Linked DNA regions of Homo sapiens. The protein of the gene in region 1 purifies or fractionates together with the protein of each later gene. This does not show direct contact. Each region holds a gene or a part of one and is shown in the gene's direction. Other genes may lie near its edges.

Region 1 (3,500 bases):
TAATCCCACTCCAGGATGGGAAACCCATGGCCGAGTGGGAAGAAACCAGCTGAGGTCACATCACCAGAGGAGGGAGAGTGTGGCCCCTGACTCAGTCCATCAGCTTGTGTAGCTGAGGTCTGGGCCAGGTCTAACCAGGCTCCCCACTCCTCCCAACCTGAGCCTGCCCTCTGATCTCTGCCTGTTCCTCTGTCCCACAGGGGGCAAAGGCTACGGGTCAGAGAGCGGGGAGGAGGACTTTGCTGCCTTTCGAGCCTGGCTGCGCTGCTATGGCATGCCAGGCATGAGCTCCCTGCAGGACCGGCATGGCCGTACCATCTGGTTCCAGGTTGGGCCCTACTGTTCACACAGGCAGAGACCCCAGGAGGCTGATGGGTGGAAACGTGGGGTCACAATAACTGGGGTGGTGATGCTCAGGGTCTGTCTAGACCCTCCAAGGACCACACTGTTCCTGAGGGTCACACCCCTCCCCTCCCATGCGTCCCAGGGTTGCAGCTAGTGGAAGTAGCCCAAGGCAGGTAGCCCAAGTGAAAGTAGCCAAGGGCAGAGCAGCTTTGCTGATGTGGACTCTAACATGGGGGATGTCCTAGAGGCTTCCTAAGGGAGAAGCTACACTGATCTGGATGGGTGTGTGTGAGTCCTGCCTCTCCAAGGAATACCGCCCCTGTGCCAACCCAGGCTGATTCCTGAATTATCCCCATCCCATTTTAGGGGGATCCTGGACCGTTGGCACCCAAAGGTAAGCTACTCCTAATGTAATAGGCTAAGAGAGCAGAAAGGACTTCACGCCTGCAAGGGCTACAGCACCCTTCTCCACCCTATCCCCCTGCAACCCTGGGAGTCACCCCTGGGCAGGATAGGACCCTCCAACTCCAACACCAGTGTCCTGCAGGGCGCAAGTCCCGCAAAAAGAAATCCAAGGCCACACAGCTGAGTCCTGAGGACAGAGTGGAGGTATGGCTGCCTGCTCCCGCCTCCTCCCCTGCACTCTGCAGCCCTGGCTGCCCCTCCCAGGCAGCTGCCTTACCCTAAGAGGGCGGGGGGAGTGGTGGGCCCTAACCAACCTCTGAACTGCTTTCTGAGCCCCTCAGGGACCCGTGTCTCCTCCATCCAGGACGCTTTGCCTCCAAGCAAGGCCCCTTCCAGGACACGAAGGGCAAAGAGAGACCTTCCTAAGAGGACTGCAACCCAGCGGCCTGAGGGGACCAGCCTCCAGCAGGACCCAGAAGCTCCCACAGTGCCCAAGAAGGGGAGGAGGAAGGGGCGACAGGCAGCCTCTGGTGGGCTTTCCTCATCACTCCCAGAAACTGGCTCTACAGGAGAGGATGGGATGGTGGCCTAGGAGCGCGTGTACAAAGGTGGGAGAAAGGCTGCCATGGCAGCCCCTGGAGTCTTAGCTGACCATCTTGCCTGTTCTTCCCCCAGGCCACTGCAGACCCCGGAAGGTCAAGGCTGACATCCCATCCTTGGAACCAGAGGGGACCTCAGCCTCTTAGCAGGAGGCTCTCCTTGCTTGCACTCACCCTTTCTTATTGTCTTGCCCTGCATCTGGGGGTCTGAATTTTTGGGAGCAGGCAATATCTGAAGGTGCAAACAGGCCCTACGGCTGTTCCCTGCACAACTCTCATGGTTTTAATTGTACCCCATCTTCCACATCTTTAAAGCTCATGTGAAAAATGCTGCATTTTTAATAAACTGATACATTTGAACTTCTTGGCACCTCTTGGTCTGAGATGGCCAGGTAGGAAGGGCCTGCTGTCCGGTCCTGGTGACAGAAGGCCCAGCTCCTCACAAGGCAAACTGAGCCCCCATCCCAGTCCTCAAGGCTCTGACTCTATCAGAGGACAGTTTGCCTCTGCAAGGACAGCCCCTCAGAGGTGGTACAAAGACCCTGGCCCCAGGCAGCCCAGGAGCCAGAGCTCCTCCAGTCCAGATTCTCCAGGGTCCAGGGCTGCCCCCTCATCCTGGCAGGAGCCAGGCAAAACCCACCCTTCGGCCCCTCCCCAGCCCCAGGCCCAGGCCCTTTACCTGCTGGCACAGGGGAGGGGCTTCTCAACTCATGGTCTCTTCACTGGCTTTTGGTGGCTCGAGGTCCCCAGTCTCTCCTGTGGGGGCTGCAACCCAGACCCTGCACGCACAGGTACCTTAGGATCTTGCCCCTACCCACCAAATACCTGGGAAGCCATCCCACCCCAGACTTCCCACCCCCACCCCAAGCGTGAGGATGGGCCCTAAGGGGACTGAGCAGCAGGGTTCCCGATCCAAGGATTTATTCCACAAGAAAAGACTGATCCCTGCTTTAGGCTGGGGAAGCAGAAATTAGGAGTCCCCAGAGCCTTCTACAAACAAAACCCCAGCCCCAGGGACTCAGTGTGGCGGAGGCTGAAGCACGAGCAACAGGGACAGCACTTGGAAGGGAGAAAAGGTGAGCTTCAGGCGGTTGTCCCGAAGGGTCAAGTGGCCAGCAGGGTCTGGTCGCTCCAAGAGATCGCAGCTGGAGAACAGGAGGGGCCATGAAGGCTCTGCGAGGGCGAGACTCGACCCCCGCCCCAATCCCACACCGCCACTCACAGGATGGCCTCCTGAACCGGCAGCGACAAGTGCAGCCAGCAGTCCACGTGGCTGCCGTGGGCCTCATACAGCCTCAGGACCAGCGAGCGGCGCTGGGGGCTGCTCTCCGCCTGCAGAGGAACACGTCTGGTGGGAGGGGCCGAGGGCAGGCCCAGTTCGGAACCCCGTCCCCAGCACGTCCCACCCCTTGCCTGCTTGACGGTCTCCAATACGACCGCGGGTGAAGACACGGAAAACGCACTCCAGGAGGTGGCGGGCGCTGGGCTGGGGGCTGGCAGAGCCAACAGGGGGAAGTTTAGGCTGTAGGCAGCTTGGATAACGCCAGCATCCTGGAAAGAGCCTGGGGTACGACCAGGAAACAATGCTGGTGGAGAATGGGGGCTACCCTCCCCTGTCCCTAGAAGGGGCAGGAAGCCAGGTTGCTGGGGTTTGGGCTCAGGGAAGGGCAGAGAGGTGTCTAGGGCTGCAGGAAGGCCCCACCGTCCCCAGCACTCACCCTTGTGCGGCATCAGTGCATAGGTGAACTCGTGGCGCCCCGTGTCAGCAGTAGCGTCCGGGGCTTTAGGCGCCCGCAAGCTGGGGTGAGGAGGGCGCGTAGGGGCCACGCTGAAGCTGTTGGAGTTGTGGTCGGGAAGACCCATTTCTCCATGCCAGCTCCCAGGCCTGGTGGGTACCCCACTTACAGCGAGAGGCTGAGGATGCTGCCTCGCACTGACGCGCCATACTTGCAGTCGTTGAGCAGGGCCAGCCCAAAGCCGTGTTCTGACAGATCCATCCAGCGATGGGCCCACACCTGGAGGGCAGATCCAAGACCCACTTGGTGGCCCTGTGCCCCTCTTTGTGCTCCCAGACTCCAGAGCTCCTGTCACTAGGCCGAGCACAAGCTCTAGAACCACACAACTGAACTCCAGCTCCCACTGTACGGGGCC
Region 2 (3,500 bases), on another chromosome or scaffold:
TTGAAATTCATGTTGCACCGTTTATAGGAGAAAATTTCACCTGTATCTGTTATATCCAAGGTCCTTTATATGTCATCCTGACATGATTACCTTGTGTGCTACCTACTAGCTTTGTGACCTCGAGCAAGTTAATTCACCTTCCTACGTAAGATTCCTCTTTAAAAATAAGTAGTAATAGCCACCTTACAGGGTGACTATAGGATTAAAAACATGGTCAATGTTGCCACCCAACAAATATTAGTTCTCCACTATAATGTTTATCTCTGATAAAGGTGACATGTTTCTTTTTGAAAATATACTAGAGCCTCATCCTGGAACTTCACGACAGCGGCAAACCAGAGTCAACCCCCATTCTCTGCCTGACCCTGAAGTGAATGAGCAGTCTTCCTCCAAAGGGATGTTTAGAAAAAAGGGAGGATGGAAAGCAGGTCCCGAGGGCACGTCTCAGGAGATCCCCAAGTATATAACTGGTGGGTACTCATAAAGAGGTGCAGTTTGCTTGTATTTTGAACTCTCGTGTCTAGTGCAGCAACAAACTGCCCTCCTTGTGGTCCTGGCTCTGCCTCCCCTACCTCTCCTCTCCTCCTCCTACTTTAGACCCTTCTCGCCTCTAGCCTGGACTTTGGCCAGAGCTTCCTTGGGCTTGATGGCTCTCCCTTCTTCAGTTTCTCTCCCTGTCTCTTACTCTTCTTCTTACAAGTCTTTGTGAACTGTTCCTCTTTGTCTTAGCCCCCGTGCCCCTCTTGTTTTAAATATGCCATCCACACTCAGCACAGCATTCTCCAAGGATGGAAAATTGAGTACACACAAATGGCAACCAAACCTTTATTTAAAGGGCCTGTCTCCAGGCCCTTTCCATCCTCTTCTGTTCTTCACCCTATGATCCCCATCCACACTACCACAATTAAACCCTATATTCCTTGTACCTTGTACCTATACCTTAGATATGCTTTCTGGTCTCTCTTTACGCCTTCTTGGTGGAGGAATTCAGTTAAGTTTCCCCAGCAGCCTGTTTATTCTCCAATGTTAATTCAAGATTGGTGTTTAATGACTTTGTCATCTCCTTCAACAGCTTCTACTTTTGCTCAAGCACGAGCTGCTGAAATCAGTGCTATGTTAAAAGCTGTGACCCAGAAGTCTTCGAATTCACTGGTTTTTCAGACTCTGCCACGGCACATGCGACGAAGAGCCATGAGCCACAACGTCAAACGCCTTCCCAGACGGTTACAGGAGATTGCCCAGAAAGAGGTAGGAGTTCCACTTAGTGTAAATGTTTAGATTAGTAGCTCCTAGAAGAAATTGAGAAGTATTGACCTAATAGAATTTATTAAAAATGAAAACCAAGGCTGGGCATGGTGGCTCACGCCTGTAATCTCAGCACTTTGAGAGGCTGAGGTGGTCAGATTGCTTGAGCCCAGGAGTTCAAGACCAGCCTGGGCAATATGGCCTAACCTTGTCTCTACAAAAAAATCCGCAAATTAGCTGGGCGTGATGGTACATGTGTGCCTGTAGTCCCAGCTACTTGGAAACTGAGATGGGAGGGTACCCTGAGCCAGGGGAGGTTGAGGCTGCAATGAGCTGTGATCATGCTACTGTACTCCAGCCTGGGTGACAGTGAGACCTTGTCTAAAAAGAAAAAAAAAACTCAGAAAACATCACCCTTATGGTTTTTGTTTTTGTTTTGCATATATTTGATTTAATCATTATCCAAACTTCTTCCCTTCAAACGAAATTCACAGGCAATTGGCTATTATGGGTGCTTTGAAATATAGGATTTGATACTCCTCTCTTGTAAGGGTGTTGAATAGTTGATGTTCCCTTCCCAGATGTTAAAAAAAAACTCTGACCCTCTTACCGAGTGGTTTTGGATCTGTGTTTCTAGGGTGTGCCCAGCTTGGGGTAGGAAGGTTAAAAAAAAGCAATGTCAATGCTTAGCATTTGCTTTCTGACTTTTTCGAAGTTGAAAACTTGAACTGGGTTTTAATTTTTGTACAAGTCTAATTGTGTTTTGGCTTCACCAGAATTCTAGACTTGAACATTCTAAGATTAAGCCCATGTCTTTACTAATTGGTTTAAAACCTATTTATTGAGCAGCCTTCTATGTACCATTGCTATGCTGGTGGTGGGGTTTGAGTTCAAGAGGGAAAACTAACAAGGAATTTTATACTTTCTAGATTTAATATAAAATCTGTTTCCCAGTGATAGCATTCAGCATGTGTATGTCTGTAGCTTAACTGAGATGAAATGTATGGGTTTTCCTCACTTGTATTATTTTTGGTCTTAAGTTTTTGGTTTTAGTTACAATTCTACAGGTTAAAATGACAACAAGAAGCTAGCATTTGATTTCTTCTTTCTTGCCCTCTAATACTAATAGCCATATTAAGCTTGTGTTACTGTGTTGAACATTTTATAAGTATTCTGATCTTCATATTCCATGAAACTTGCCTAGTTAGTGAGTGATGGAACTGTGCCTCCTTCCTAGGTCTCCTAGCTCTAAAACATTCACTCTTTCCATTGTCTTCCTTCTCTACTTACATTGAAGAAACTAAGTTAACAATTTAAGCAAACTAATGGGATCTATAAAATATTCCACTTAATCTAAAGTTATTTGTTTGCATTCCTGACCGTTAACTCTGTTTTGAGATTCTTACAAACTGGGATATGTCCCTCTACTTGAAACTATAGGCGGAGAAAGCCGTACATCAGAAAAAAGAACATTCAAAAAATAAATGCCATAAAGCTCGAAGATGTCACATGAACCGGACGCTAGAATTTAACCGTAGACAAAAGAAGAACATTTGGTTAGAAACTCACATCTGGCACGCCAAGCGGTTTCATATGGTCAAGAAGTGGGGCTACTGCCTTGGGGAGAGGCCAACAGTCAAGAGCCACAGAGCCTGCTATCGAGCCATGACGAACCGGTGCCTCCTGCAGGTGAGCTTTTCCAGTGGGCTTTTTTTGTTATTTTTGTTTGATCCTTTTCCATAGAGGCCTTTAGAATAGTTTATGATGTGCCAAGCCCCGTTTATGTGATTATTCATTTTAAAAATAATTCCTGAGCATGAAGCCCGGGTCCTTTGCCAGATGCTGGAGATCAGGCAGCCTAAAGTTAGGGGGGTGACTGACATTAATCAAACGATTTACCAGATATGTGGTTGTAAGGGAAAAGCATACAGTATGATGAGCATTTCTAACCTAACTGGAAGGCGTCCCCCAGAAGTGCTGTTTGAGCTGAGCTCTAAGGGATAAGATGGGAGGAGAGGGGGAAGGCAGAAGGAAGCCAGGTGAGAGTGAAGAACTGGAATCAATTCTGTGTGACAGAGAAGAAGAGAAGGAGAACAAGGCAACATCAGGGCAAGGTTAGCCTAGAGAAAAGAGTAGGAACCAGGTCGTGCAGGTCTTGTTGATCATGTCAAGTTTTATTCACTATAGATTAATCTAACAGTCGTTCATCAATAACAGATATTTGAGAATCAACTGTGTACCCTGAACAGGGTTCA
Region 3 (3,500 bases), on another chromosome or scaffold:
CATTTTGCATATTCTTATAGGTGAAACAAACATATGTAATAATTATTCCTATTTGTAACTAAATAGTTAAATTATGTTATTTATGTGATGACAGAAGCTGGAGAAATTTGTATTGCCAAGATGGTTATATATGTTGGTGGGGATGAGCTGGGTAGCTCATGTAGAAATATATCTGGGCATCTTAAACTTTGCTCACTTATTTAAACTAGTAATCTACTAAACTGAGTCATTCACACTTACGAATAGTATCTTTGAATGGGATCTAGTCATATCAAAAATTCTAGAGAGAAAATATTTTCCAACACTTAAAATGCTTACATTTTTCTTTAAGTCCTACGTGTTTTTGACTGACTTTTAATCTGGGTGCAAATGTAAGGTTATTGCCATCACTGATGCTTTGTTGATTTTTTTGTATATTATTACTGATTATATGTTTTTTTCTGAGTTTTTCCTTTCTTGAGTGAATAATGTTTTTATTTTTCAATACAATGAATAATAGTATTGACAATCCTATAAAATATCTGATAGTTACATCTATTGAGCACCCACCATTTGCTAAAAACACTGTGTTAAATGCTTTATATACAGTATCTCTTAGACTACTCACAACATCCCTGAGATAGGTCCTGTTTCCCCCCGTGGTCAAACTCCATCTCTTAAGAAACATAAGAAATTTTCAGAGATATAAAATACATAATTTCTTTTAACTCAGTTTTCTTTCTTTTTTTTTTTTTTTTTTTTTTTTTTTTTTTTGAGATGGAGTCTCACTCTGTTGCCCATGCTGGAGTGCAGTGGTGCGATCCTAGCTCACTGCAACCTCCGCCTCCCAGGTTAAAGCGATTCTCCTGGCTCAGCCTCCCGAGTAGCTGGGCTTACAGGCGCGTTCCACCACTCCCAGCTAACTTTGTGTTTTTAGTAGAGACGGGGTTTTGCCATGGTAGCCAGGCTGGTCCTGAACTCCCAACCCTCCTGACCTGAGGTGATCTGCCCACCTCAGCCTCCCAAAGTGCCAGGATTATAGGCGTGAGCCATCGCTCCTGGACTTAACTCAGTTTTCAAACCACATTTTGAGATCTCAAATAGAACTTCAATGTTCATTTTAAAAATAGTTGGACTTTCAGATACTGATTTTTTAACAAAGTTTCAAAATAAATATTGAATTTAGGAAACACATACTCCCTGCTATTTATGTGAGAAATACTTGAACTTGTCTCCCTCCCCTCCCCCACCCTTTTTTTTAGATGTAGTCTAGCTCTGTCACCCAGGCTGGAGGGCAGTGGCGTGATCTCAGCTCACTGCAGCCTCCACCTGGGTTCAAGCAATTCTTCTGCCTCAGCCTCCCAAGTAGCTGGGATTACAGGCATGTACCACCACACCTGGCTAACTTTCTGTTTTTTTTAGTAGAGATGGGGTTTCACCATGTTGGCCAGGCTGGTCTCAAACTCCTGACCTCAGGTGATTCACCCGCCTCGGCCTCCCAAAGTGCTGGGATTACAGGCGTGGGCCACTGCGCCCAGCCCCCTTTTTTTGAATTGTACACAGGATATTTTTATCTAATTGACTTTTTTACAAACTAAAATCTAGAATTCCTTTTATTTACTTTTATTTTTGGAAATTTTTTTTCCTCCCTGTTGGCAATGCAAAAAGCTACTATTTAATGTATGTGCACTAAATATCAGGTGCTGTGTTAAGTATTTTATCTGCATTGCCTCAGTGGTCTTTCCAATAACCTTCCAAGGCAGGTACCATTATTTTCGCCATTCTACATATAGGGAAAATTGAAGCTCAGAGAAGTTAAATTACTTGCCCAAGATCAGAAAGTCAGTGTTGGAACTAATATTTAAATGTAGGTCTGTCTGATTCCAAAGCTTGTGATTTTACTATTACTACATATTACTGCTATGGAAATTTCTGTTTTTGTGTTTTTCTATGTACAAATAACCTTACTCTTTTAAGTGGAATTTAGCAATATGAATATTGTTTTTCAGCTGTGAGTACCAGAGTGCCCACTGGTTCCAACAGTTCTTCTCAGACCACAGAGTGTCTTACACCTGAATCCTGTTCGCAGACTACAAGCAATGTGGCTTCCCAATCGATGCCTCCTGTGTATCCTTCAGTTGACATTGATGCACATGTGAGTAGATTGCTTTATTTAAACTTATTTTGCACATTCTGATCTTCTTTGGAAAGGAAAATTATTCTGCATTTATTGTGAAAAGAAATATTATTTGCTCTTAAATTGATAACTTCTGTTAAAAAAAATTTTAACTTATTTTTTTCTTCTCCTAGACTGAGAGCAATCATGACACAGCATTAACACTAGCTTGTGCAGGTGGTCATGAAGAACTTGTATCTGTGCTCATTGCACGGGATGCCAAAATTGAACACAGAGACAAAAAAGGTAAATATCAGTCAGAAATAAAATCCAAGTGTAGTTACATCAGAAAATAATTAACTTTTTTATTATTGATAAATAGTTCCTAGACTATCTCAGTGATAAGATGGATAAGTATATTTCAGTTAGGAATATCTGGATTCATTATTCTGCGGAGCCAAATAATTCTCAAAACATTCAAAAATTAGACGTAGATCATTAGTGAAATAGAGCAAGTTGTGGTTGCCTTTGTTAATCCAAAGGTAGTTCATACAGAGGCATCAAAGTTCATTATGAGTATAAACTTTAATAATTTTTACCGACTTAGTTTTTTAATTAGGTGTTTATGGGTTTTTTGTCACTAACAAATTAGGGTTTAGAGCAGTTTTATGTTAACTCATTATCAGTGTCTGCCCTGAAGGATTTATTTTGCTAAAATACTAGAGAATTGTAAACAGTGGCTTTAAAATAAAATAAAAAACATAAATTTGTTTAAGATTTTCATTTTCTGATTTAGGTTTCACACCACTAATCCTGGCAGCAACAGCAGGGCATGTTGGAGTTGTTGAAATCCTTTTGGATAAAGGTGGAGATATAGAAGCACAGTCTGAACGAACTAAGGATACTCCGCTTTCATTGGCATGTTCTGGTGGACGTCAGGAGGTGTGTTAATGTTAATTTTCATTTTGTAAATATTTTGCTTGTATTTTAAAATATGCATATGATTCGTATTTTAGCTACATGAATAAAATTTGCATGTATTTTGTGTGTTTGTTTTTCTGAGGCAGGGTCTTGCTCTGTCTCCCAGGCTAGAGTACAGTGGTGCAATTACAGCTCGCTATAACCTTGAACTCTGGGGCTCAAGCAATCCTCAGCCTCCCAAGTAGCTAGGGCTGTTTTGTAGAGATGGGGTCATGTAATGTTGCCCTGGCCGATTTCAAACTCCTGGCCTCAAGCAATCCTCTCTCCTCGGCCTCCCAAAGTACAGGGATTATAGTTATGGGCCAGCATGCCTGGCCCTGCACGTATTTTAACATGTTCCATATACTTTCTGAGGAATGGGTACTTCTGTTAACTTTTATGGGAATGTAAATGCCCTTTTTTTTTGGCGGGGGTTTGTGGAGGG
Region 4 (3,500 bases), on another chromosome or scaffold:
TTCCCAATGTCTATCTGTATTCTTTTTGCACTTCCCCTGTAGAAACCGATAATTATCTGAATTCCCACTGTTTTCTTCTAAAATTATCTTTGACAACCTTTTAGAAAACTTTCAGTCTTAACCATGCTACTCTACCCCACCACCATTAGAAGGCAAGATAACCACTATTAACCTTTTCTTGACTTTTCTAAGACTTTTCTGTGTGTTTACACAAATGCAATTATGTGCCTAAAAGTTTAGAATACAAAAATGAGAGTACAGTATTTTACAATCTGCTATTTTTACTTTTTTTCACATGTCAAAATTATTCAGAATACCTGCATAATAAATAACTATTTTGTCATTTGTCTATTTAGGTTATTGTTGATTTTTTTTTCCGATTATAACCACAGTGCAGCATTCTGTGTAGATACTATTTTACATGTTTGTTCAATTATTATTTTGATAAATTCCCAGAAGTAGAATTACTAAAACATTTGTACTAATTTTTTCTTTTATGAGCAGTTTAAGAGTAGCCAGATTTGCCTTCTATAATGTAAGTACTCTCATTTGAGGTTAGTTTTTTAAAAGCTTTGCTATTTGGTGGATTTTCTTTTTTTTTTTATAGATTCATTTTTTCTTTTTTTTTTGAGACAGAGTCTCATTCTGTTGCCTAGGTTGAGTGTAGTGGGCACTATCATAGCTCACTGCAGCCTCTACCTTTCAGGCTGAAGTGATCCTCCCACCTCTGCCTCCCAAGTAGCTGAGACTACGGGTATGTGCCACCATGCCCAGCTAATTTTTAAATTTTTCTTTTTTTGTAGAAATGGGGTCGTGCTATGGTGTTCAGGCTTGTCTTGAACTCCTGGACTCAAGAGATCCTCCTGCCTCCGCCTCCCAAAGTGCTGAGATTACAGGCGTGAGCCACCACGCCTGGCTTTTTCTACCCTATTTGTATTGTAGCAATAATCTCTTCATTTCATGGTTGCAATATTTTAGTTTCGGGTTAAAATGACCTTTGGTGGTTAGCTTAGTAACTTAAATCATTACTTAATGCCATTTTAGTGGGATATAATAGTCTAAAATGCAAAGAAATAATTAGGGATAATTTTAGTTTTTTTAAACCCCGTGTTTGACCATTTAACATCTGCGTTAACCAGAGAATTGATTGCTACTCTTCTTTGTAAACCATTTTGTGTGTATGTGTGTGTGTGTATATATACACACACACATACATACATATATATACTTTTTTTTTGGTAGAATTAGTGCACTGAAAGGCTCCAAAGGAAAAGACTGTGAAATCCCTGTGCCTGTGGGTATTTCAGTAACTGATGAAAATGGTAAAATTATAGGTGAGTGTACTATAACTCCAAAAGTTGTAAAAATGTGCACGTTTTCTAAAATGAAACAATGGAATAGCTTCTCTTGAGTTTCAGAAGATTTTTTAACTAACAATTTTAGCTACTATTCTATAAGAGAGCATTTTTAAAACTTATAAAAGTTAAATTGACTGCTAGATTTAAGATTGTTTTAAAGATGTTACAGTTCTTACTTGGTCTTAAAATATATAACTAGGCTCTTTTCAATTGTTTACTGAAGTGTTTTTCTGGGGTCAAACTTTTAATAGATTTGTAAATTGGAATTTCCTGGACTGTTTTTCTGAAAGAACAATATTACATTAATGATTCTACTTATTAATTATAGATTTGTAATTGAGAATTTCCTGGCATGTATTTTTGAAAGTAAAATATTACATTAATGATTTCACTTACTAATCTATAGATTTGTAATTTTGCATTTCTTTGCCTGTATTTCTGAAAGAAATATATTGCATTAGTGATTTCACTTATTAATCTTTGCTGTAAGTATTTCTCTCCCTCTTTTTAAGGAGAACTCAATAAAGAAAATGACAGAATTTTGGTAGCTCAAGGAGGTCTTGGTGGTAAATTACTTACAAATTTCTTACCATTGAAAGGCCAGAAACGAATAATTCACCTTGATCTAAAACTTATAGCTGATGTAGGCCTAGTAGGGTAAGTATCGTTCATATTTTTATTATTATACTTTCAGAGAGAGAGTTCTTGAATAGAAAATAAATGTAAATGGTAATTTGGGGCCATAATTATTTCTAATTTATGGAATTTGTGTGTTGTGTATGTACTTGGAAAATATGCTGCTAAATATTATTTTCAAATTGCCAACACAGAGTTTCATAGTTATTGCTTATTTATAAAATTAAGACCAGAGCAATTGAATAGATCAGTGGGAATGTTAGAGAATGCATAAAGAAAGAAAAATCAATCAAATGCAATATTACAAGATGGTTAAATAATGTTACCAGATATTAATAATAAATCCAAACAAACCGTATTATTATTAAAAATATATAGAAGGAAATAAACAGGGAAAAATGGTTGACATAACTCTTTTGGGTCTTAATAGAGACATTAAAGTATCGTTAATCAAATGGCTAAAGACCAGTACAGACAATCTCAATCCTCAGACTTACGCACTGTTGCCGCCAAATTGAATCCTGCTATGACTGTATATCCTTCTTGCCTCTGCTTAGGATCTATCTAGTCTCAGCAATGTAGGCCTCACAAGAGTGTCCTCTTCCACCAGCCTCCATTCTTTCATTAAATAATGCTGTTTAGCTGTGGGGTTTGCAGTGCAGCTGCCCACTGGAAGGGGATAGATAGTAAGATACAGAATACATAAAGGAAGAGAAAACTTCAATTTGCATTTGCTCTCTCTCCCCCATCCCCCCTCCCTCCTATCCTCTCCCTCTGGCCCTATCACAGTATTACACAGTTATTCAGATGGAAAGCTTAAGGACAAGATAAGGAAAACTGCCTTATTACTGTCCTACTCCAAATTCCTAGTTCTATTTTTTGCTTCCCCATAGCTTCTTTCTAAGTTCTTTTCATGTTCCTCTTCAGTCATCTCACTGCTTCTTTACCAGACTCTTAAGTCTGTATCCCTCGTCTTTTGCCCTGCCTGACCAGCCACTAGAGCTTACCACCATTGGTTTAGGGTTCACAGAGGCCCCATTCCTGCTAAAATTATAACAAGGAAAGATGTGATCCTGGCTTGCCATTTACATTTATTTTTTTCAATAAAGCACAGTTACAAGAGTTATTAGATGTAAGTTCTATAATCCTCTATATTTTTAGGAACATTATGGGCTTAATAGGGTCTTATGGACAAGACTGGCAGTCCAGCCAATCACAGTTGCATTTTGCATAAACATGTGTTTCAAGTTCTGAAGAGACAACTTTACAGTCTAAGAGGAGCCTAGCACGGCTTAGTCATAAAAGTGGAGTGGCATGGAGGACTCAGGTTAGACTATTTAGGTTAGGATCTCAAATCCTCTGGAGGCTGGCCAGCTGGTCTTGGGTAAATTACACAGCCTCTCTAAGCCTTTGTTTTCTCTTCTTTTTTTCTTTTCTTTTCTCTCATTCTTCCTTCACTATAGTTTTTTGCTTTTCACCACGTCATTTGTTTTCTCATCTTTAATA
Region 5 (3,500 bases), on another chromosome or scaffold:
ATCTCAAAAAGAAAAAAGAGTACTACAGGTTGGGTATTCCTTATCTGGAAATGTTTGGTACCAGAAGTATTTTGGATGTAGGATTTTTTTTGGGTGGGGGTGGTTTTGGAATATTAACATATACATAGTGAAATATTTTAGGGATGTGATCCAAGTCTAAACATGAAATTCATTTATGTTTCATATACAGCTTATACACCTAGCCTGAAAGTAATTTTATACTATGTATATATATGATATATATTTTTTATATATATATATATATTTTTTTTTTTTTTTTTTTTTGAAACGGAGTCTCGCTCTGTCACCCAGGCTGGTGTGCAGTGGCGCAATCTCGGCTCACTGCAAGCTCTGCCTCCTGGGTTCACGCCATTCTCCTGCCCCAGCCTCCTGAGTAGCTGAGACTACAGGCACCCGCCACCATGCCTGGCTAATTTTTTGTATTTTTAGTAGAGACAGGGTTTCACTGTGTTAGCCAGAATGGTCTCGATCTCCTGACCTCGTGATCCGCCTGCCTCAGCCTCCCAAAGTGCTGGGATTACAGGCGTGAGCCACCACGCCCAGCCATGCCAGGTATTATTTTTAGGAGGTTGAGAAACGTCAAGTGATCTGATCTAGTATGGCTTGAAATCTCAATCTTCATATCAAAAAAGAGTTTAAAAGTATAATCCTCAAAGTTACTTTGTCATTGCCAAAGAAACATTTCAGGGTTTGGAAAAACTGCTTTTTGTGTTTCATAAGATTTTTTTTTCTCATAGGATCTTGACTGGTTCTTATGATAAGACTTCTCGGATCTGGTCCTTGGAAGGAAAGTCAATAATGACAATTGTGGGACATACGGATGTTGTAAAAGATGTGGCCTGGGTGAAAAAAGGTTAGGACAGTTTGCCTACACTTAGAGGAATCCTAGATAGGGATTTGGAAATAAGCCATTTTTGGTGCTGGGGAAGAATGGGGAGTGGGTGGGAAGTATCTCATACCTCAGTTATTATGAGGTCTTTCAAAAAATACAGTGTTCAAGAAGAAAAAGATTATATAAAAAATTCATAAATTGTTAGAAGTGTATCTTTATTAAAATTACATCAGATAATATACATTTTCAAGTTAATATTGAATGTATTACATTCATCTTTTATTTTCTTCTGTTTTTGTTTGTTTGTTTTGTTTTGTTTTGTTTTGTTTTGTTTTTGAGATAGTCTCGCTGTGTCACCCAGGCTAGCGTGCAGTGGCATGATCTCGGCTCACTGCAACATCCACTTCCCAGGTTCAAGCGATTCTCCTGCCTCAGCCTCTCGAGTAGCTGGGACTACAGGCACCTACCATCACGCCTGGCTAATTTTTGTATTTTTAGTAGAGACGGGGTTTCACCATCTTGGCCAGGCTGATCTCGAACTCCTGACATCATGATCCACCCGCCTTGGCCTCCCAAAGTGCTGGGATTACAGGCGTGAGCCACTGCACCCAGCCTGTTTGTTTGTTTTTTGAGGCAGAGTCTCACTCTGTCGCCCAGGCTAGAGTGTAGTGGCTCCATCTCAACTCACTGCAACTTCCACCTCCTGAGTTCAAGTGATTCTCCTGCCTCAGCCTCCTGAGTGGCTGCAATTACAGGCGCCTGCCACCACACCCGGCTAATTTTTATATTTTTAGTAGAGGCAGGGTTTTGCCATGTTGGCCAGGCTGGTCTCAAACTCCTGACCTCAAGTGATCTGCCTGTGTTGGCCTCCCAAAATGTCAGTATTTACAGGCGTGAGCCACCACACCCAGTCATCGTCATCTATTTTTGAAGAATCTTTTCTTTATACCACATCAGCCTTTTAAAACCTGGCCATATGAGTTATCTTTTTAACATCTTTTTCAATAACAACAAAAAAATTTAGTTCTTTGGTTTCAGAACATGATGTATTCTAAATGGTATACTGATTTGTTTCTTATTCTTGTGTTCTCCTTTCTCCAGATAGTTTGTCCTGCTTATTATTGAGTGCTTCTATGGATCAGACTATTCTCTTATGGGAGTGGAATGTAGAGAGAAACAAAGTGAAAGCCCTACACTGCTGTAGAGGTCATGCTGGAAGTGTAGATTCTATAGCTGTTGATGGCTCAGGAACTAAAGTAAGTAGCTAGAATATTATTAGTACTCTGTTAAATTTGAATTTGAGCTTGTTGCTAAACATTTTCTTCTGCATATATTCATTGTGTTGGCCTAGTTTCCTAACAATCGGTGACAAAAGATAGGATTTCAAAGCAAGAGTAAATACTCATACAATAGGAGATAGTCACTTGCTCAGTTTGAATCCCTGGTTTAGAACCTTATATAAACTCCAGAAATTTTAAGAAATGAGGTATGGGCCGGGCGCGGTGGCTCACGCCTGTAATCCCAGCACTTTGGGAGGCCGAGGCGGGCAGATCACCTGAGGTCAGGAGTTCAAGACCAGCCTGACCCACATGGAGAAACCCTGTCTCTACTAAAAAAAAAAAAAAAAAAAATAAGCCGGGCATGGTGGCGCATGCCTGTAATCCCAGCTACTCGGGAGGCTGAGGTAGGAGAATCACTTGAACCCGGGAGACAGAGGTTGCAGTGACCGAGATTGCACCGTTGCACTCCAGCCTGGGCCCAACAAGAGTGAAACTCAGTCTCAAAAAAAAAAAAAAAAAAAAAGAAAGAAATGAAGTAAACAAGCCATTCATTTATATAACCTTCTTACCTCATAGTAATTGACATATTTCCAGTCTATATCAGCTACTCTTAAGTGCTGTCATCAACTGAAAACGCCTAGTTGATAGTCTGAGCATTAGCATACACTAAAGTTAGTGCTAATAGAGTTTTACTATAGTATCAATCTACTCTTTATCATGACAAAATGGTAAAAGTTAGTTAAAAGGTAACAAACCTGAGGGCAATACCATATTGATTTATTAATATGAAGGGTTATAAATCCACTTAGAATTTGAAAGTTTCCTAAGCCACATTGAAGTATTCTGGACTTAAGAGTGTTTCTTTGACAGTTAGGGTAACAGGATGCTTGTATTCAAAGGTGAAGATTTATGATTTTTCATATTGAGCCGAAAAGTTTTATATGTTGTTTAGTCCAAACTTTAGTGGATTAACTGTACCTCTTCTTTTTGGTTAAGGAGAGATAGAAACTCAACTTGAACTTATTTAACCTTAAAAGTAAATGGATTGTGAGATCCAAGGAAAGATTGAACAACCACATCACAAGAAGGGTAATGGTGCATTTGGGCCTCAGGAACCAGTGGAATAGAGGCTTGAATGTGGTCCGCACACCCTCTCGCTGTCTTGTCCCTCAAGTTGACTTTATTCTCTCTCACTTCAGATTGGCTTTCTTCAAAAGACATGGCAATAAGCTTGGCCTTCAAGATTTCCCAGATTTTATGTTCTGTCCTATCTGCCCCTGGAAAAAGGCTAATTTCAGTTCTGTGGAACACAAGTTCTTTGAAAAGGTCCTGAATGAGGAAGAGACCTACTGTTGTAGGCAAATAAT
Region 6 (3,500 bases), on another chromosome or scaffold:
GTGGACCAGCTAACGGAGAAGATCCACCAGACGGGGCTAAAGGTCGTGCGCCTCTGCGCCAAGAGCCGTGAGGCCATCGACTCCCCGGTGTCTTTTCTGGCCCTGCACAACCAGATCAGGAACATGGACAGGTGTGTGTCGAGTCCATCCCTCCCAGTTGGTCCCTGAGCTTCTGCGGGTGACATGTACAGAACTCAGGCACCCTGCTGACCTGCATGTGCTTCCAGCATGCCTGAGCTGCAGAAGCTGCAGCAGCTGAAAGACGAGACTGGGGAGCTGTCGTCTGCCGACGAGAAGCGGTACCGGGCCTTGAAGCGCACCGCAGAGAGAGAGCTGCTGATGGTGAGTGCCCCTCCTGCCTGCAAAAGGGCCTGTGGGCTGGCGGCCTGATGGTTTTTGTTTGGGCCAAAGCACCTATTTGAATTGTTGCTTTGCTTCTGGAAAGAGAACTTAGATGCTCTCTACTTGGCCTCTCTGCGCTCAGTTGTACAGTAAATTAGGGACATCTCGCTGCCTGGAACACGGTCTTCTAGGGAGTCTCCACTCCCTGCCAGCCTCCACTGGGATCCGGCAGTGGATCTAGAACACTCCTGCTCTTTCATAACCAACCAGCCTGAACTGGAATCAGCCTGAGTGCAGGTTCCAGCAGCTCAGCACTGCCCCTTGGAGGCTGTCGTGAGGCGCAGAGCTCTTGGTGTGGAGAGGTTGCCTTCTGTGAAACATGACCGTTTAAGGATCTTAAAAGTTTGTAATCACCACAGCCTGGACCATGTATCTTGTCTGGGAGGGACAGCTTGTTTTTTATAGTGTCAGGGAGGGTGAGAAACAGGAGAGCTTCTGTGTTCTGTCCCACCTGCCCTCCGGGGTCTGGTGGCGTTTACAGTGCAGGTGCCCTGATGCCTCTGCACCCTTCCCCAGAACGCAGATGTCATCTGCTGCACATGTGTGGGCGCCGGTGACCCGAGGCTGGCCAAGATGCAGTTCCGCTCCATTTTAATCGACGAAAGCACCCAGGCCACCGAGCCGGAGTGCATGGTTCCCGTGGTCCTCGGGGCCAAGCAGGTGGGCTGCCTCCCCTGCCCTCCTGTGTGAAAACTCGTGTGTGTGATTCTTGGTGTTTGTCTTTTAAAACACCTTGTATTGACGTAGGATGCCCAGCAGAGTGTGCGCACACTGGGGGCTCCCTGAGGGGTTTATAGAGGGTGGGTTCTGCCAGCTGCACGTCCAGTGTGCGTGGTGAGCAATGCCCCTGTGGCCAGGTGGTGTCCTGTGCATCCTGGGGCCCCTACTTCCTTGCTAGTGTGTGTTGAGGCTGATTCACACCTGAGCTTCTTGACTTGTGGGGGCCCCTGTTCCTACAGCTGATCCTTGTAGGCGACCACTGCCAGCTGGGCCCAGTGGTGATGTGCAAGAAGGCGGCCAAGGCCGGGCTGTCACAGTCGCTCTTCGAGCGCCTGGTGGTGCTGGGCATCCGGCCCATCCGCCTGCAGGTCCAGTACCGGATGCACCCTGCACTCAGCGCCTTCCCATCCAACATCTTCTACGAGGGCTCCCTCCAGAATGGTGTCACTGCAGGTAACGGGGCTCTGCCCAGGGCAGGGGCTTCTACAGAGAAGCGGCATCAAGGGAATGTGGACTGGGGAGAAGGAACTGGCCCATCAGCTTCCCCTGAGCGGCTTCACATAGCCACTGCTTGAGGTCAGGGCACTTTGTGCCCAAGGTCTTGATGGTATGGTCTTGGATCAAGTGGTGTCTCTGGGGCATGTGGGGAGCCTGTGTCCTCTGTAAAACTCAGTCATTGCCTGAGAATTCATCCAAGCCTCATGTGGCAGCATGCACAGCAGCCAGGACAGGCTGTTAGGGGAGCTGAGCCCGGGCCTTAACGTGGGCTGTGCATTCAGTGCTTCATGAAGAACAGCTGTTCTCAGGGCCTGGGCCCCTGGGGCCCGCAAGACCGTGTCCGGCTTCCCTGGATAACACAGAGGCCTCACCTGCCCTTTTTCACTCTGCTGACGCTCACACTGCTGGTGACCCCCTGGTGCTTCTGCAAGAGTCAGCCCAGAGCAGCCAGACTGTGCCCGGATCACAGTAAGAAACGCCCTGGATGAGGAAGTGAACAGTACATCTTACTAAGCCTCGAGTGTTTCACTGTGACCAGATAAAATTTCTCGTGACACCTTTGGGTATGCCGGCGCTTGAAGGAAGTCCTTGTGGACACACCCTGGGTATTCACCCCAAGGTGTTGGGCAGACTTTTTCCAAAAATGATCGAACCTGTCGCTTCATGGAGAACTAGTGGCAACATCTGTTACAGTAGTAAAATTCAAGTGAAAACCAGAATTTTGGAAAACTTAACGTCGCTTGCCATGAGCTTGGTGTCTTCCCAACACCTAGAGACTTTTCTGGTGAGGTCTGTGGGGGTGACAGATGGAATGTTTCCACCATTGCCAGTGAAATGTGTCAGCCTTTGGAAGACCTACTTGACTCGGTGGGAGATCCTTCCTGAATGACCAGCAGAGTGTCACGAAGTCACATGGGGATGGAGTGGCAAAGAGTTGTCACAGGCCTGCAGAAACCCACCTTTGTCCAGCTTGATGTGGCCTCAGGGCTGGAGACTCCCAGCCATGCAGAAAGGCTGTAAAAACAAACCCATCTCCCTTTCCAGCCTCAGGCATCCATGAGGCCTGGCTTCCCCACAGCGTCCCCAGAGCCCAGGAGGGTGGACTGAGCAGAGGTGGACCCCAGGGCCCAGCTGCCTCCGATTCAGCCAGATAGTAAGGAGATTTGCAGAAATGGGAGACAGGACCACTCTTCTTACTTAGCTTATTTTTGGAGAAATAACTAACACGTAATGGGTTATTTTTAAATGAATTAATATATTTTTTAAATTTCCAAGTTTAGAGAATACAGTTATCCAATAAACAAAAGCTGTTTGGACTCCCTAACTTTTGAGAGTGTAAAGGGTCCTGAAAGCTGCCGACACAGCGCCTCATGAACTCCAAACCTGTGAGGTTGGTATTGTCAGGCCTAGTTACAGGAGAAAGTGAGGCTCAGAGCCCACCCCCCGGGTTGGGCCACACCACTCTTTGCCTAGCGGTAGGTCTTGGGAGTTGATGCCACTATTGACATCGCAGGGACACCGCTGTTCCCAGCGCATGGCAAGGCTGAAAACACAAGGCCACAGAGACCTAGCTTGTGCTCTGGGGTGTCTGAGCACTGGCTGGGAAAGGCGTGGCTCGGCGCAGGCTCAGACCCCTCATGGTCCCCAGGGCATCGGCCCAGAGGGCAGACGCTGGTGCACACTGCTCTCTAATTGATGCACAGCACGTAGTTCACACCCAGGAAGTACATTTTAGGAAATTCTCTATTGAAGTGTAAACATGTGGCCACATTACAAGTGTCTGGCTCAATGAGTGGTTACTAAGTGAGCATATTTGGATAGCCAGCACCTGAACCCAGAACCACCTGACCAGCTGTGAGAAGCCGCCTCATCCCTGCAGG
Region 7 (3,500 bases), on another chromosome or scaffold:
CTCGGGTTAACCCGCGTTCAGCTGGGGATCCAGAGCAGAGAAACGGCCCCTTCCCATCCTAGCCCAGCCCAGCCCCCTCCAGCCTTGCCCGTCAGGCCCCCGAGGACTGTACCCAGGGCAGAAGGGCGGCTCCTCCTCCTCCTGGCCTTGTACCCTCGGTGGTACCATCCAAGGAGGGGAGCCTGTAAAAACCAATGGCAGTGAATGGCTATGGCCACTCTCCCACCCTCCCCAGGTTTTGTTTGTTCCACTCGTTCTTTGTCACAAAGAAGCCCACATCCCAGATCCCTGAGACAAAGCACCCGTTCTCCTTCCCTTTGGAAAACCAGGCCCGAGAGGCTGTCAGCAGTGCCTTCTTCAGGTGAGTCTTGGGCAGCCCAGGAGAGGTCCGAAGGTGGGAAGGCCTTGAGGGCGCCTGCTCCCTCCAGGTCCCCTAAGCTGGGAACAACGGCAGAGGCCCCCGGAGTTCTAGTAGGTCCTGGAGAGGCGGGAGACCGAGCCCTGGGGAGGGCGGAGGGAGGCGGCTACATTGACTCATCTGGTCTGCTGACCCCAAGCCCCATCCCTTGCCCAGTCTGTTGCAGACCCTCAGCACGCAGTTCAAGCAGGCACCGGGCCAGACCCAGGGTGGGCAGCCCTGGACCTACCACCTGGTGCAGTTCGCAGACCTCCTGTTGAATCACAGCCACAACGTGACCACCGTGACACCCTTCACTGCGCAGCAGCGCCAGGCCTGGGACCGGTGAGCACGTGGGATTTCCAGGGGGTGGGCAGGACGCTGCAGTCTGACTGGTGCAGGGGCCTGGGAATCGCCTGTCTCCCCGCAGGATGCTGCAGACTCTGAAGGAGCTGGAGGCCCACTCCGCAGAGGCCAGGGCTGCTGCCTTCCAGCACCTTCTGCTCCTCGTGGGCATCCACCTCCTCAAGGTACTGGGGCCTGGGAGGGAGGGGCTGTGAGCCTGGGGTTCTATGGCACAATGGGCCCCCTACCGAGAGGCTTTTGAGGGCTGTGCGGGTTTCCAGGAAAGGTTCTGGGGGAGTTAAGTTGGGAGGTTTTTGAAGCCAACTTTGTCACAGGTGGAAACATCCCTCCGGCCACTTAGCGGCACCAGCTGGTGTCCTAGGCTTTCCATGCAGGATCTCGTAATCCCCACAGCTTTGAGGCAGACACCCCCTCTCCATGTTTGACATGGAGAAACTAAGACTCAGAGGCAAAGGAGCTTGCACTGTACCCCCTGCTGTGGGAACACCTTCTGGCAACGGGCTCTCCCGCTCGGTTCTTCCCATCAAGAAGCCCTGACCACATTCGAGGCTCAGTACCCTGATTTCTTTTGAGTTTTCTTCTCATGACATAAGCTGCTCTTATTGGGGCTGCTTTAGGTCTTCTGTAGCCTGAGTAGGTGGGTCTCTTGCTTGCTCCCGTCTGGCCACTTGACTGTGGTTGCCTTACTTGCCAGCTTTGGTTATTCTGAGCCCAGCATGTGGATGAGCTGTTTGGGGAAAGGTTGGCCACGATGCCCCTTCCAATTCTTGACGTCAGGCCTTTGATAGCAGCAGAGTCCTGGTGATTCCAGGACACATGTGGAGCCTGCCCCCAGCCTTGGGATCTCCGAACTTGACTTGGACAGAGGAGGCTGCAGTTTGCTGTGTCAGAGCCTTAGATAAAAGGTGCAGCCCTGGCCAGGCTCGGGGCTCGCACCTGTAATCCCAGTACTTCCGGAGACCAAGGCAGGTGATCACGAGGTCAGGAGTTCAAGACCAGCCTGGCCAACAGAGTGAAACCCCTTCTCTACTAAAATACAAAAATTAGCCAGGTGTGGTGGCAGGTGCCTGTAATCCCAGCTACTCAGGAGGGTGAAGCAGGAGAATTGCTTAAACCTGGGAGGCGGAGGTTGCAGTGAGTTGAGATGACACCACTGTACTCCAGCCTGGGCAACAGAACAAGATTCTGTCTTAGAAAAAAAAAAAAAAAGGTGCAGCCCAGAGGAGGACGGGGACCTGCTTGGGCACACAGCCTGGGAGCCGGAGAGCAATGACAAGGGCTTTGGGCTGCTTTGTCCCACCCTGGCCTAAACGTTCAAGCTGCCGACTGCATTATGAGGGGAAAGTCTGCTTTTTAGGTACCAAAGATCACACAGTTTTCAAGAGCTCCTGCACACGCACATGCGCACACCACGCCACCTCACTCGAGTCTGGGGTTATCCCCAGTCAGATGAGTTCAATGTAATTAAATTAGTTAAAACTAATGACTTTCAATTCTGTCTCTCATGCCAAGCCAAGCATGGAGGGAATAATCTAGAATTATGAATTGGGGGCTGGGGCTTGCTGGCTTCTCTGGGACCCTGACCATCCTTGTCAGGTTCTGCCTTTCTTGAGTGTCCAAGGGGGAGTTGGACTCCTTGTCCCCTTCAGGCTTTTGGATCCTGTAACTGCGTATTAGGTGTGAAAAAGCCGTCAGCTAGCTGGGCGCGGGGGCTCACACCTGCAATCCCAGCACTTTGGGAGGCCAAGGGGGGCAAGGGGGTGGATCACGAGGTCAGGAGTTCAAGACCAGCCTGGCCAACATGGTGAAACCCCGTCTCTACTCAAAATACAAAAATTAGCCGGGCATGGTGGTACACGCCTGCAATCCCAGCTACTTGGGAGGCTGAGGCAGGAGAATGGCTTGAACCTGGGAGGCAGAAGTTGTGGTGAGCCGAGATCAGACCACTGTACTCCAGCCTGGGCAATAGAGCGAGACTCCATCTCAAAAGCCCTCAGCTCTTGGGGTGTCCAGCTGGGGTCTTCTGTTCTGGATTGTGGGGGTGACTGGCCAGGGCGGGCCAGTGGCTGGGTGTTGGAGGCTTCTTGATGCCACTGCTGCCATTTGGCCAGCCCCTTGCCTGGTTTAGAAGGGCTGGGGACAGGGCCTGGCCCCAGTGTGTGTCCTACCCTGCCCGCAGTCCCCTGCAGAGAGCTGTGACCTGCTGGGTGACATCCAGACCTGCATCAGGAAAAGTCTGGGAGAGAAGCCCCGCCGGAGCCGCACCAAGACCATCGGTGGGTCCTTGGTCACGAGAGGGACTAGAGTGGTGGGGTGGGGCCAGCGGTCCCCTATCCGGGCTCAACCCCTCCCTCTTGCAGACCCCCAGGAACCCCCGTGGGTAGAGGTGCTGGTGGAGATCTTGCTGGCCCTGTTGGCCCAGCCCAGCCACCTCATGCGCCAGGTGGCCCGGAGCGTGTTTGGCCACATCTGCTCCCACCTGACCCCGCGTGCCCTGCAGCTAATTCTGGATGTGAGTTGGGACCTTTGGGAGTGGAATGTGGGCTGGGGCTCACTGAGCAGCGAGCTGCACCAGGGGTGCCGCTTCAGCCTCCAGCCTCCCTGCCGGGAGCCTGCGGCCGGTGGGAGGGGTCTCAACGAGGCCTTGGCCTGGCCTGGCCGCCTCTCCTAGGCTCCGTTTTCTTCTGGGAAATGGAGGTCTTTGGTCAAGGCTGAGTGGGGCCTGGAGAGGAGGGCG

What was found.
Region 2: the proteins of NEIL1 (region 1) and POP1 purify together in Homo sapiens (affinity purification with mass spectrometry; one large-scale study listed by BioGRID and IntAct). This does not show direct contact.
Region 3: the proteins of NEIL1 (region 1) and ANKHD1 purify together in Homo sapiens (affinity purification with mass spectrometry, with the first as the bait; one large-scale study listed by BioGRID). This does not show direct contact.
Region 4: the proteins of NEIL1 (region 1) and GTPBP10 purify together in Homo sapiens (affinity purification with mass spectrometry; one large-scale study listed by BioGRID and IntAct). This does not show direct contact.
Region 5: the proteins of NEIL1 (region 1) and WDR12 purify together in Homo sapiens (affinity purification with mass spectrometry; one large-scale study listed by BioGRID and IntAct). This does not show direct contact.
Region 6: the proteins of NEIL1 (region 1) and UPF1 purify together in Homo sapiens (affinity purification with mass spectrometry; one large-scale study listed by BioGRID and IntAct). This does not show direct contact.
Region 7: the proteins of NEIL1 (region 1) and MYBBP1A purify together in Homo sapiens (affinity purification with mass spectrometry; one large-scale study listed by BioGRID and IntAct). This does not show direct contact.

Annotation. Positions count from the first base shown.
Region 1 is NC_000015.10:75,353,539-75,357,038, forward strand, and holds part of NEIL1 (endonuclease 8-like 1), read left to right. Parts: intron 1-72; exon of another isoform or gene 73-147; intron 148-200; coding exon 201-328; intron 329-711; coding exon 712-739; intron 740-892; coding exon 893-954; intron 955-1,114; coding exon 1,115-1,280; intron 1,281-1,425; coding exon 1,426-1,496; 3' UTR 1,497-2,367; coding exon of another isoform or gene 2,368-2,494; 3' UTR 2,495-2,571; coding exon of another isoform or gene 2,572-2,681; 3' UTR 2,682-2,762; coding exon of another isoform or gene 2,763-2,911; 3' UTR 2,912-3,067; coding exon of another isoform or gene 3,068-3,147; 3' UTR 3,148-3,254; coding exon of another isoform or gene 3,255-3,364; 3' UTR 3,365-3,500. Other genes in the region: MAN2C1 (alpha-mannosidase 2C1), read right to left, coding at 2,368-2,494, 2,572-2,681, 2,763-2,911, 3,068-3,147, 3,255-3,364. UniProt on the Homo sapiens protein: Involved in base excision repair of DNA damaged by oxidation or by mutagenic agents. Acts as a DNA glycosylase that recognizes and removes damaged bases.
Region 2 is NC_000008.11:98,127,293-98,130,792, forward strand, and holds part of POP1 (ribonucleases P/MRP protein subunit POP1), read left to right. Parts: intron 1-302; coding exon 303-470; intron 471-1,072; coding exon 1,073-1,248; intron 1,249-2,685; coding exon 2,686-2,934; intron 2,935-3,500. UniProt on the Homo sapiens protein: Component of ribonuclease P, a ribonucleoprotein complex that generates mature tRNA molecules by cleaving their 5'-ends. Also a component of the MRP ribonuclease complex, which cleaves pre-rRNA sequences.
Region 3 is NC_000005.10:140,502,833-140,506,332, forward strand, and holds part of ANKHD1 (ankyrin repeat and KH domain-containing protein 1), read left to right. Parts: intron 1-1,988; coding exon 1,989-2,134; intron 2,135-2,289; coding exon 2,290-2,401; intron 2,402-2,891; coding exon 2,892-3,037; intron 3,038-3,500. Other genes in the region: ANKHD1-EIF4EBP3 protein, read left to right, coding at 1,989-2,134, 2,290-2,401, 2,892-3,037. UniProt on the Homo sapiens protein: May play a role as a scaffolding protein that may be associated with the abnormal phenotype of leukemia cells. Isoform 2 may possess an antiapoptotic effect and protect cells during normal cell survival through its regulation of caspases.
Region 4 is NC_000007.14:90,353,216-90,356,715, forward strand, and holds part of GTPBP10 (GTP-binding protein 10), read left to right. Parts: intron 1-1,242; coding exon 1,243-1,334; intron 1,335-1,870; coding exon 1,871-2,015; intron 2,016-2,491; exon of another isoform or gene 2,492-3,500. UniProt on the Homo sapiens protein: May be involved in the ribosome maturation process. Complements an ObgE(CgtA) function in E.coli ribosome maturation. Plays a role of GTPase in vitro. When missing, disorganization of the nucleolar architecture is observed.
Region 5 is NC_000002.12:202,894,674-202,898,173, reverse strand, and holds part of WDR12 (ribosome biogenesis protein WDR12), read left to right. Parts: intron 1-758; coding exon 759-874; intron 875-1,954; coding exon 1,955-2,109; intron 2,110-3,500.
Region 6 is NC_000019.10:18,855,959-18,859,458, forward strand, and holds part of UPF1 (regulator of nonsense transcripts 1), read left to right. Parts: coding exon 1-131; intron 132-227; coding exon 228-342; intron 343-918; coding exon 919-1,062; intron 1,063-1,361; coding exon 1,362-1,575; intron 1,576-3,500. UniProt on the Homo sapiens protein: RNA-dependent helicase required for nonsense-mediated decay (NMD) of aberrant mRNAs containing premature stop codons and modulates the expression level of normal mRNAs.
Region 7 is NC_000017.11:4,545,385-4,548,884, reverse strand, and holds part of MYBBP1A (myb-binding protein 1A), read left to right. Parts: intron 1-235; coding exon 236-361; intron 362-574; coding exon 575-742; intron 743-827; coding exon 828-927; intron 928-2,942; coding exon 2,943-3,039; intron 3,040-3,123; coding exon 3,124-3,275; intron 3,276-3,500. UniProt on the Homo sapiens protein: May activate or repress transcription via interactions with sequence specific DNA-binding proteins. Repression may be mediated at least in part by histone deacetylase activity (HDAC activity).